Regions from separate parts of the Homo sapiens genome. Here regions 1 and 2 are each reported to be linked to region 3. The links are microRNA targets in miRTarBase. Many come from high-throughput screens and were not tested one by one. Region 3 holds a microRNA gene; each other region holds the end of a gene's coding sequence.

Region 1 (3,256 bases), not on the chromosome of region 3:
CAAAGGCCAGTTCCTAGGATTACAGGCCTGGTGGGGGGGATTCTACAGGGCTCCCCAGCCCCTGAAAGGCCCCAGTTTCCAAACAGACCCTAGCCCCCACCCCCACCCCACCTCCCAAGGTGAAGCCAAACAAAAACAATCCCCCAACTTTTCTGCCCTTGTCTGCCTTCTGCTCTAGCCTTTTCCATAGAGGGGAGGCGAACTGAGGAGATCAGAGAGGGGAGTTTAGAGTAGGAAGAGTGGCAAAGGAAAACCAAGCCCCCATCCAAACGTAACCAGACTGGGGTTTTCTTCTGTCCAGCTCCGGGGAGGCGCAGTGGACGGCAAACTTACAGCCGGTATCAGACCTTGGAACTAGAAAAGGAGTTTCTCTTTAATCCTTATTTGACACGAAAACGTCGGATTGAAGTCTCTCATGCCCTGGGACTGACCGAGAGACAAGTGAAGATCTGGTTCCAGAACCGAAGGATGAAGTGGAAAAAGGAGAACAACAAGGATAAACTGCCGGGAGCCCGAGATGAGGAGAAGGTGGAGGAAGAAGGAAATGAGGAAGAGGAGAAAGAAGAGGAGGAAAAGGAAGAAAACAAGGACTAAGCAAAAAAGAAAGACCCCCCCCCCCTTAGCAACTCCCTTGAAGTTTCGTTTTATGGTAGCAGATAAATTGAGAAGTTTACGACTGTCATTTGCTTTTATAGAGAATAGAATGACACTCACAACTCTAACTACCTGTCAGATACTTGCAGCTCTGGTTTTATTACCTTTGGACTTCCCCCACTCTTTATTTGTTTGGGGGCTGGAGGGGGGAGACGGAGAAACAGTGAAAAGTTCGGACTCTCTGTCTCACTCCTTGCCCCACACACACTTGTCCCTGCCCCCACCCTTCTGAGTCCTTCCTGGATTTTAAGGTCTGAGACCTGGCCTCCGTGCTCCTCGGTCTGTCTCTCACCACACTCCCACCTCCCTGCTTCTCTGGTATTTATTTTAGAGGGGAGCCCCCTCGAAATGCAGAAAAGGACTTGTGGTTTTGTTTTTATGCTAAGGCTAGTGTACTAGATGTACTTTTTCTAAAAAGGAAAGGACAGAAAAAAATGAAGAAAGGAAAGGAAGACAAATGTAAAGAAATAAGGAAAAAAGCAAGGAATATCCCCTCCCCCTCCCCCTCCCCCTCCCCAGGGCTCCCTGCTTAGAAAAACCCCCTTGACTTTCTCTAGGAACCTGATGGAAACCTGAAGGAGATGTGGGTCTTTCCCCTCCCCCCATTTCCAGAAGGGTAGATAGGAGCCTGCAGTCGCCTCTAAAATCCTACCTAACCATCCCATGGTCACTCGGGCCCATGCCTTCCTCTCCTTCGCTGTTTGATTTCTATTCTGTTGGGCCCGCCTTCCTCTGAGCTGCATTAGTGTTAGTGCTCAGAAATCACCATAATCACGAAAATAATAATAATAAATCTTTAACATACTACCTAAAGGGAACCTGCAATAATCTTGAAAAAGAAAAAGAGAAAAATTTTAAAATCCTGCTATAGGAGAAAAAAAGAGAAAAAAATAAAAATCAAAAAAAAAAAAAAGAAAGAAAGAAACCTCCAGCGTATTTTATCACTACCTATAGAAAGAAATCCTGCTTTGAGAGTATTTGTAATGCGGTTTTGTTGTCGTTTGTTGCTGCTTATTTCACTAAGAAAACCCAACAACTGAGACTGCCTAGCCCGCCGGTCCTGTGCGCTTTTATTGTGCTTCTAACCCCAGTAGAGTAGAACTAAATTGCACTGAATGTATAGTTAACTCTGTCTTGAATTCTCTGTTTATGCAATGTGCTCGAAAGAAAAAAATGTTAAAAATATATCTATAATAATAATTTTTTGTCATTTGTCTTTATGTCCAGCTATGAATGTAGATTTTGTGTCCCGACAGCCCTGTTCCTGGTCCAAGTACTTTGTATTGTATACGTGAGTCATAATAATAAAAAGAAGAAGAAAAATAATAGAAGCTGGAATGACTTGCTTTTTCTCCACAGCTCTTCCCTATTCTCTACCTTCTCTCTCCTTATCCCCCTGTCCAACTCTCTGGAAAAGGTCTGCTTCACTGCTCTGGCTTTGGGGTTCAGAAACTCACGTGGAGAGAAGCCTGGGAATTGAGAAAGCATGCTGGCCTGGGAGGGCAGGTGAAAGGGGTGAGGGGTTGAGAGGAGGAAGAAAAGGAGCAGTCCATTGGTTGAGAGAGTAAGGAGTCTATAGGTATGCCCTTGGGGGAATCTTGGCTCCAAACAAAGTGGGTTTCCAGACGCCAGGATCCCAATGGGAAGAAAGATTTCCTCACTCATCCACCCTCCTCCTCCTCAGCCTTGGGCTGGGCCCAGACAAAGAATCTGCCCTATGCAACTATGACTTTTTCTTCCAGGGTCTGGGGCTGAGGATGAGATAGTGGGATTCCTTCTGATCTCCGCATGCCCCTTGTGGCCAGACCTTAGCACCCAGCACCCAGCACTAGAATAATGAACCGGGTGGGGATGTGTGAGGCTCAGGGCAACTGGCTGGCCTGTCTGCAGGGCTTGCCTGAAGATGGGGGATGCTAAGAATGGAGGGTGAGGAAGCTTAAGCCTGAAGGAGAGGAGAAAGGAAGGGGAAAGTAAGTGAGCTCGTAGGCAACCAGCCTGAGCCCACATCCTGAAATTCACATTCAATCCTCTGCACAGGAAGATTGTCATCACTGTCATTCAGCCCGCTTGCATCCACTCCAACTTCTGTTCAGACGGTTTAAAGTCCACTCCCCACTTCACCTTGGCAATTGGTCAGCTTACCCAGCCCCCATAGTGTGGGCCATTGGCCTGGAGGATGGGCCTGCTGAGTGGACATCCTGCCACCCCAGTCACAGCGGGGTAAGAGGGCGTCTTTATTGGTATCTTCATTCCCCAAAATGAAGAATTGAAGGCTCAGGGACCCAGGGGGTAGAAGGGTCTCTCACTTCTCTCTGGAGAGTCCTGGACTTAAAAATTCTGTTTATGCCAATAAGATTCTGGTCAAATAATCCCAAATTCCAGAGATACAAGTCTTCTGACTCAGTCAGGAGAGGGGAAAAGGGAGGGGAGGGATCTTCTGGTCTTAAAAACCAGACCCCCGAAGGCTGAAATATTTTTGAGGCCAGATTTTCTTTCTTTCTTTTTCTCTTCTCTTCTCTTCTCTTCTCTTCTCTTCTCTTCTCTTCTCTTCTCTTCTCTTCTTTCTCTCTCTCTCTCTCTCTCTCTCTCTCTCTCTCTCTCT
Region 2 (3,207 bases), not on the chromosome of region 3:
GTGGTCCACCTAATGCAAAAACGTTTCATGTTATATACTACATTATATACATTAAAAAGATGACTAACCTAACAATGGAAAACAAGAAACCGTAAACATTTAGAAGAGAATGACCACTGGAGATGTTAGAGGGGGTGGAATTTGGCTCTGAGCTTCCCAGCAGCCCGAGCAAAAAGAGAGCATAGTAGGAATTGTAGTTTAGTGGCCTCATTCATATGAACAGTTTTCTTTCTTCACGGTTAAGCATTCCATTTCATTGGACACACTCAGGTAGGTTCCTTATGGTAATCACAAATAGAGAAACTGGGATGACTGAGCTGGGCTTCAAGAATCTTAGGTACACAATTAATGTGAGGTTGCTTAACTTTCTTTTGGCTCTTGCACACACACAGGGGCAGAGGCCGTGAGTGATTTGGGGCCTGTAAAATGCAAACGAACGGAAGTTTTTTGAATGACAATTCAAAAAGAAAGGGTGCATTATTTTTTAGTCTGGGGATGGGGACTAGGAGAATTAAAGGGCATTTTATCTTATTTTCTACATGGCGAGACCATCAGAAAGATGTCCATGGTAGTATCACCAACCTCGTATCTCAAGGGTGTGCGATAAGCAGGATAAGGAGGACTGAGTTCTAAACTCCTACTTGCCTTTATAAAATGACCAAAGCGGCTGGGCATGGTGGTTCACGCCTGCAATTCCAGAACTTTGGGAGGTCGAGGTAGGTGGATCACAAGGTCAGGAGATCGAGACCATCCTGGCTAACATGGTGAAACTTGGTCTCTACTAAAACTGCAAAAAATTAGCCGGGCATGGTGGCACACACCTGTAGTCCCAGCTACTCAGGAGGCTGAGGCAGGAGAATCGCTTGAACCCGGGAGGCGGAAGTTGCAGTGAGCCGAGATTGCACCACTGCACTCTAGCCTGGGCACCAGAGTGAGACTCCATCTCAAAAGAAACAAATAAAAATGACCAAAGCAGACAAGGACACATGGCTTGGTGTCTCCCATCTCTGCCCCTGACAAACTGTGTGTCCAGGCAAGCAAAGCTGTCTCATCTCTGGACCTGCTTTCTTCTCAGTGAAGCAAAAGGCCTTTTTCTTTTTTTTCGGCTCACAGTTAAAAATCTGAGATGAACAAAACCCTAGAGAAATAACCGAGTACAACCTGACACTCAAAAGAGAAATAGGTTATTTGTACACTTTTAGTTCTGAGAAGCTGCTTACAAGCAAGGCTCTTATGTCCCAACAGGTAAACTATCTCCTTAACACACAAGTCTTGGCTCTGTCTTCTGGAGCCTGCAAGATTGATCCCATTTCCAAAGGGCAGCCCAAGTAGCCAAGACACTGCTGTGTAATAGGAATGGCAAGTAGAGAGCCATGCCACCCATATGGGGTCTCCATTGTGACCCCAGGGTCTCTCCTGCACCTGGTACTTGCTCTGGACTACGTAACTGTCACTCGTGAATTACACTTTGGTGAATCAGGTTGAGTTCATTGAAGGGAGGAACCCATTTCCATCTGTTTATTCTGCTTACTCTGCTTAGCCTAGAACCTCCACAGATCCTAGTGAATGTTTTTAACAATGAATTCTTGGAGACAAACTATGCTCTACCTTAAAATAGAAGACTGTCTGCCAATGGGACGAATACTACCAAAGCCCAATACAAGCGAGTTAAACAACCCTGTGGCTATTTTTACTTTTCTTTTAAAGGGACTGATCTGAGGTCTCAGCTTAATTCCACTAAGGAGCCACAGTATACAGAAGTGCTCTGTAAATTATCAAATGCCATTGCTACAATGCACACAATAGTCGCTAATAACATCTCTATTCTGCATAATCTTGGAGAACTGCCTTAATTTCCCCAAACTCAGTTCCCTCCACCTTAAGTGGGGACAATGACTCATGCCCCCCAACCAGGATTGTACAGGTGCAAAAAGGGCTATTTACGGAAACCAAATTCCCTCTATAGGTTATGGATTATTTATGGTTGCTCCTTAAGGGACAGAGTGTAATGCCATTAAGGAAAAGGTTGAGTTGCATCATTTAATTTTAAGCTATTTATTTTCATAAACATGAGGTATTTCAAAGTGCTATAAGATGCAGCACTAAATATATACATTTTGAAGAAATTAAACACAGAACTTTGCATTTACCCAGTTCTATGCACCAAACATGAACAAATACATTAACAGGAAGAAACAGGCTAGGAAAAAGGCATATATATATAGTAAATTTCTTTACAAAAGTTTCTTAGTTCAAAAAGTGATAAAGTAATATCTACTCAAAACTTTCACAACTCATTTTCATACGAAAATATAAGTATCAAATTTAGTTATGTATCAGCGTCATACTAAAGTATACAGGCAGTGTAAGAATTAGTACAGTACATAACAGAGATTAACAATATATTTGTATACAAAACATGCTCCTCAAACATTGAGGTATTATTACAGTACTTAGGTATGAACTTCCAGTCTAATACTGGCCGCAAAAGCCACCTCTCATTACCCAGGATGTATACAAAAGGCGGATGTGTCAATGGTATTTACAGAAATGTTCCCCAGGGGTATCAAATGGCAAACCCCTTATGTGGCATCTGCTGGAACTTAAGCACCATTTTAAAAAGAAGGAATGACTTTCTGTTGTTTGGAAACTTGGAACACACAAGGTGACTTCAACAGCCCCAGAGGCTCCCAACCGTCACCAACGTTTAGCGCTGTCATGGAGGTGAGGTGGAGGAGGCTGCAGGGCCACCCAGCATCCTGGGATGCAGGCTCTCCAAGGTCCCAGCAGAACCCCACACTGGTGGTCCTACTGCCCACCCAGAGCCGAACTCGACAGGGGACCGATTTGAAAGTAAACCAACATTCTTAATGTCAACACAATGTTTGTTTAAAAAAAAAATCAAAATGTGCAAAGTGGCAGTGACTGTCCAGTTTTGAGAAGCGTCTAGCAAGTCCGAGCGTGTTCAATTTTCTTTAGCAACTGCTGCTGTCTTGCCTGCAATTTTTCCTTTTCCAGCAAAAGCTGGTGCTCCTCGGCCTGGAGGGAGTGGACATACTCAGTGGCCTTTTTCAAAATGACCACCTTGGCGGCCTTCTCATTCTTTACCAACTCCGGCACGTGGTCCCTGAGCGTGAGAAAGCTGGACCGAAGGTCGTTGCGGCGCTGGCGCTCCAGGATGTTGTGGTTTCTGCGACGCTCACTGTC
Region 3 (3,256 bases):
TTTTGCCACTTACCTGGCAGGCTGATAGTCAAAGGTTGTCTGCTGTGCAATGATGAAGAGTCTTACCTCTGGATTTCTGTCTCTCCTCCCTCCTTGCTACCTCCTTGTGTCTTGGCAGACAAACAGAAATGACAAGGCTCAGGAGTTCTTTGCAAAGCAGGCCACGGAACTCCAGAACCAGGCTGAGTGGAAGGATTGGTTTGTCCTGCCCTTCCTGCCATCCCCGGACACCAACCCCACCTTTGCTACCTACTTTTCTCGACAGTGGGCTGACACCTTCATTGTGTCCCTGCACAACTTCCTGAGCGTCCTGTTTCAGTGCATGCATATCCTTTCAGTTGCCTGGGGCTGAAGGCCCAGCCTGAGGCACCCAGACCTCAGGATCAGTAGCCCGCTGGTCTCCATACAGGCATTTCTTCTACAAAAATGCCCAGGGACCATTTTTATGGGTCACATGAGGGGGCTGGACAAATTGTGGTTGTTTTTGTCAGTAAGCCAGGGAATCATAAATCTTAGTTCTGACACTGTGCTGCTGAAGTATTAGCTGACGTGTGGGCAGTGACAGTGGCAGCAGTGGGGTGCTAGTACTGGCTTTGTCAGCAGGCACTGGGGTTGGAAGGCAGCTGCTGCTTGGAGAAACCGGGCAGCCTTGAGAGTACCCTCTCTGTGCATGAAACGTGTTCCCGGGGATATACCTTTGCTGGGATTAGGTACAGATGAGAAGACTTCTTGGGTTGGAACTTCTGTCTGTGTTAGTGTTTGGGTTATTGTCTCTAATAGTAACTTCAGTGTTCCTCAAGTTGCCAGAGAACACAGTAGCTTTAAGAATATATATGCGGGTATTGGAGAGGGGGAATGAATGAGAATGCAGGTAAATAATTTACAGCCTACCAAGTGTACAAGCCAGAGCTCCCAAGGCCATTGTTCATGCTCCCTAGGCTGGAAATTTAGAGGAGGAGAAGGGAGTCTGGCTTGAATGGGGCTGGCTGGTGAGGCACTGATAAACTTGGGTGTTTAGAGGCCCACCCATGGGCAGGCGTTTTGGCCTCTGGGAGGAACACTTTCTGGTGGAGGTGGGAAGGGCACCTTTCCTGCCTTCACCCTTTCTGTGCCCCAGATGAGTGTGAATTCCACCCTTGCCAGAACTGCCTTGTTTCTTCCCCGTTGTTCCCTCTCTTCATCCTGAGGGCTCTCCAGTTAACTTTGTGGGCCCTCCAGTGAAATCGAAACTGTCACTCAAGATCTTTTCAGTGCTTCTCAAACTAGCTTACACACATATGGGCTCTAGTCCCCTCTCCAGTTCTGAGGCCCTGTCTGCTCTGTGCTCCTCCTAACTGAAGCTGCCTGAGGCAGTGGAGAAGGACCAGTATCCCAAGCTATAGACTGTCGTTGTTCTTGGGGTGGCCACGCAATCTGCAGAAAGCTTTCTCTTCTCAGTCCAAACCTTTGCCAGGGAGAGGCTCAACCTGGGGAGGCGAAGCCAACTGACTGGTCTTTTCTGCCTCATTGGCTGTATTACTGCAGAGCCACTGGCCTCCAGGGCTGCTTTTAGCTGAATGTAGTGACCTCACTAAAGCTCAGACTGGCTGTGAAGTCCACTGGATGCTAGCTCTTTGCTTCTGGTATTTGAGAGAAAATGCTTAGGTTTGGATTTATGTCCCCTCTGTGGGCTGGCCAGGCAGATGGTCATGCGTCTGTGAATCTGTCCGAATGAAATGAGGCCAGACCTAGAGAAAGTCTTAGAGACAAGACTGTAGGGAGCGACTATTTCATTAAGCCCGCAAGAGCCCACAGCACCGCTCCTATACTCTGTTCTCTGTGTCCCTGTGTCTCATGTGTTTTACTGGTGTGTCAAGGGTTTGGGAAGGACGTTTAAACATTTCAGGGGCTGGCTTATTCTTTAACTTCGTGCACCAGTCCCTGTGATCCTGAACTTTGATGCGGAGTGTCAGAGGACTAACCAGGTTCAAGAAGAAAATGAAGTTCTGCGTCAGAAGGTTTGTTCTGAACAGGCTTGCTCCTGAGGAAGTACTTCTGCTTTTTGTGTGTGAAATTAGGTAGTGGCAGTGGAACACTATATTAATCAGGTTTCCACTGCCACTACCTAATTTCTCAGATGGAAATGAGTCACCAGAAAGTCAGTATTGGGGATTTGGAGAGTAACAGTCTCTGAAAACCAGAGGCGAGATTCATATTTTAAGTCAGATATGTAGCATGAACAATATAGTAACAGTAATTAACTTTTAAGGAGAAAAAGACTATATGCATCCATGCCACCTTATAACTAACCTGTTTTCATGTGTCTGTTTTGTCTTTCCACGTATAGCTATATATGTGTGTATATATATATACACATATATATGTAAACTATATGTATATATATAAACTATATATACACACACACACATATATATAGTTTATAACCCATATATAATTTAGTTGTTCCTACTCAGCTATATGCTTCTCTAGTTTGATAAAACAATAGAGCCAGGGGACCCACATTTGCCTGTACATGTTGCCTGAGGAACATTTCTCTTTCCTGAAATTAAGATCTCCTTAGGTGATATTGTTAGGAAAAGGAAGATTATAGGCTGTTTAGGTTATGGGGTTTAAGATTCTTGGGATTTGGGGTGTGTGTATATGTAATTTTCTTCAGGCAAAAGGTTAAAAACGCTGTAGTTCATTAACAGGTTTTTTTTTTTTTTCCATTCCAGAGTCAGGCTTTGAGAGTTCTAAAGCCTGATTTTGTAGATTCTAAAAAGCAAAACAGGTTGGGTGGAGCTATTTTTCTCAGTGAATCTAGGAGGAAGCAAGTCAAATGATTAAAAAGAAAATGGGTTTTGGATTTCTAATGGTTTTTGGTTTTCTCACCTCATTGTTGTCCAGTGACAGCAGTCACTTTTCCCAGTCTGCAGTGAGCAGAGTGAGATGGGCCCCTTGACGCTGAGGCGAGTGGCACTCAGACCAGTGGGCTTGGATGCGATGTGTCTAGAAATCTTCCTCCGCAGAGGGAAGGTTAGGTGAGATCATTGGCTAACTCAGTCCCACCCCTGTATAGCTTTTTGCATTGCAAGCTGAAATCCACCGACTGAAGAAAGAGGAGCAACAGCCAGAAGAGGAAGAGGCCTTGGTCCAACACAAATTGCCTCCTTATGTCTCCAACATGGACCGCCTGGGGGACTCGGAACTGTGAGTGTGTGTGACGGCCCTTTCCTTTTCTTTGCCCTCTGTGCTCTCAGCCCCACAGTTCCCTCTG

Evidence for each region. The annotated mature microRNA hsa-miR-6509-5p reads AUUAGGUAGUGGCAGUGGAAC and lies in region 3 at 2,053-2,073, shown strand. An mRNA with a match to its seed (bases 2 to 7 or 8) in the 3' UTR can be bound and repressed. Matches are read on the target gene's strand: a 7mer-m8 pairs with bases 2 to 8, a 7mer-A1 pairs with bases 2 to 7 and ends in A, and an 8mer does both.
Region 1: miRTarBase lists HOXC8 as a target of hsa-miR-6509-5p. Seed matches in the 3' UTR shown: 7mer-m8 at 1,304-1,310 and 8mer at 1,460-1,467.
Region 2: miRTarBase lists MYCN as a target of hsa-miR-6509-5p. Seed matches in the 3' UTR shown: 7mer-m8 at 2,454-2,460.

Annotation. Positions count from the first base shown.
Region 1 is chr12:54,010,788-54,014,043 of GRCh38, forward strand. It overlaps HOXC8 (homeobox C8), which reads left to right. Exons shown (of 2, transcript NM_022658.4): 2 at 302-1,982. The coding sequence ends at 594. Among named protein-coding and RNA genes, the nearest start is that of HOXC8, 3.4 kb to the left of the region's middle.
Region 2 is chr2:15,945,837-15,949,043 of GRCh38, reverse strand. MYCN (MYCN proto-oncogene, bHLH transcription factor) reads right to left here. Exons shown (of 3, transcript NM_005378.6): 3 at 2,040-3,207. The coding sequence ends at 2,947. Among named protein-coding and RNA genes, the nearest start is that of MYCNOS, 5.8 kb to the right of the region's middle.
Region 3 is chr7:135,205,861-135,209,116 of GRCh38, reverse strand. MIR6509 (microRNA 6509) reads left to right here and starts at 2,039; the gene lies at 2,039-2,123. It overlaps WDR91 (WD repeat domain 91), which reads left to right. Exons shown (of 15, transcript NM_014149.4): 3 at 119-326; 4 at 1,915-1,997; 5 at 3,059-3,189. RefSeq lists an enhancer at 1-258 and a silencer at 2,048-2,207.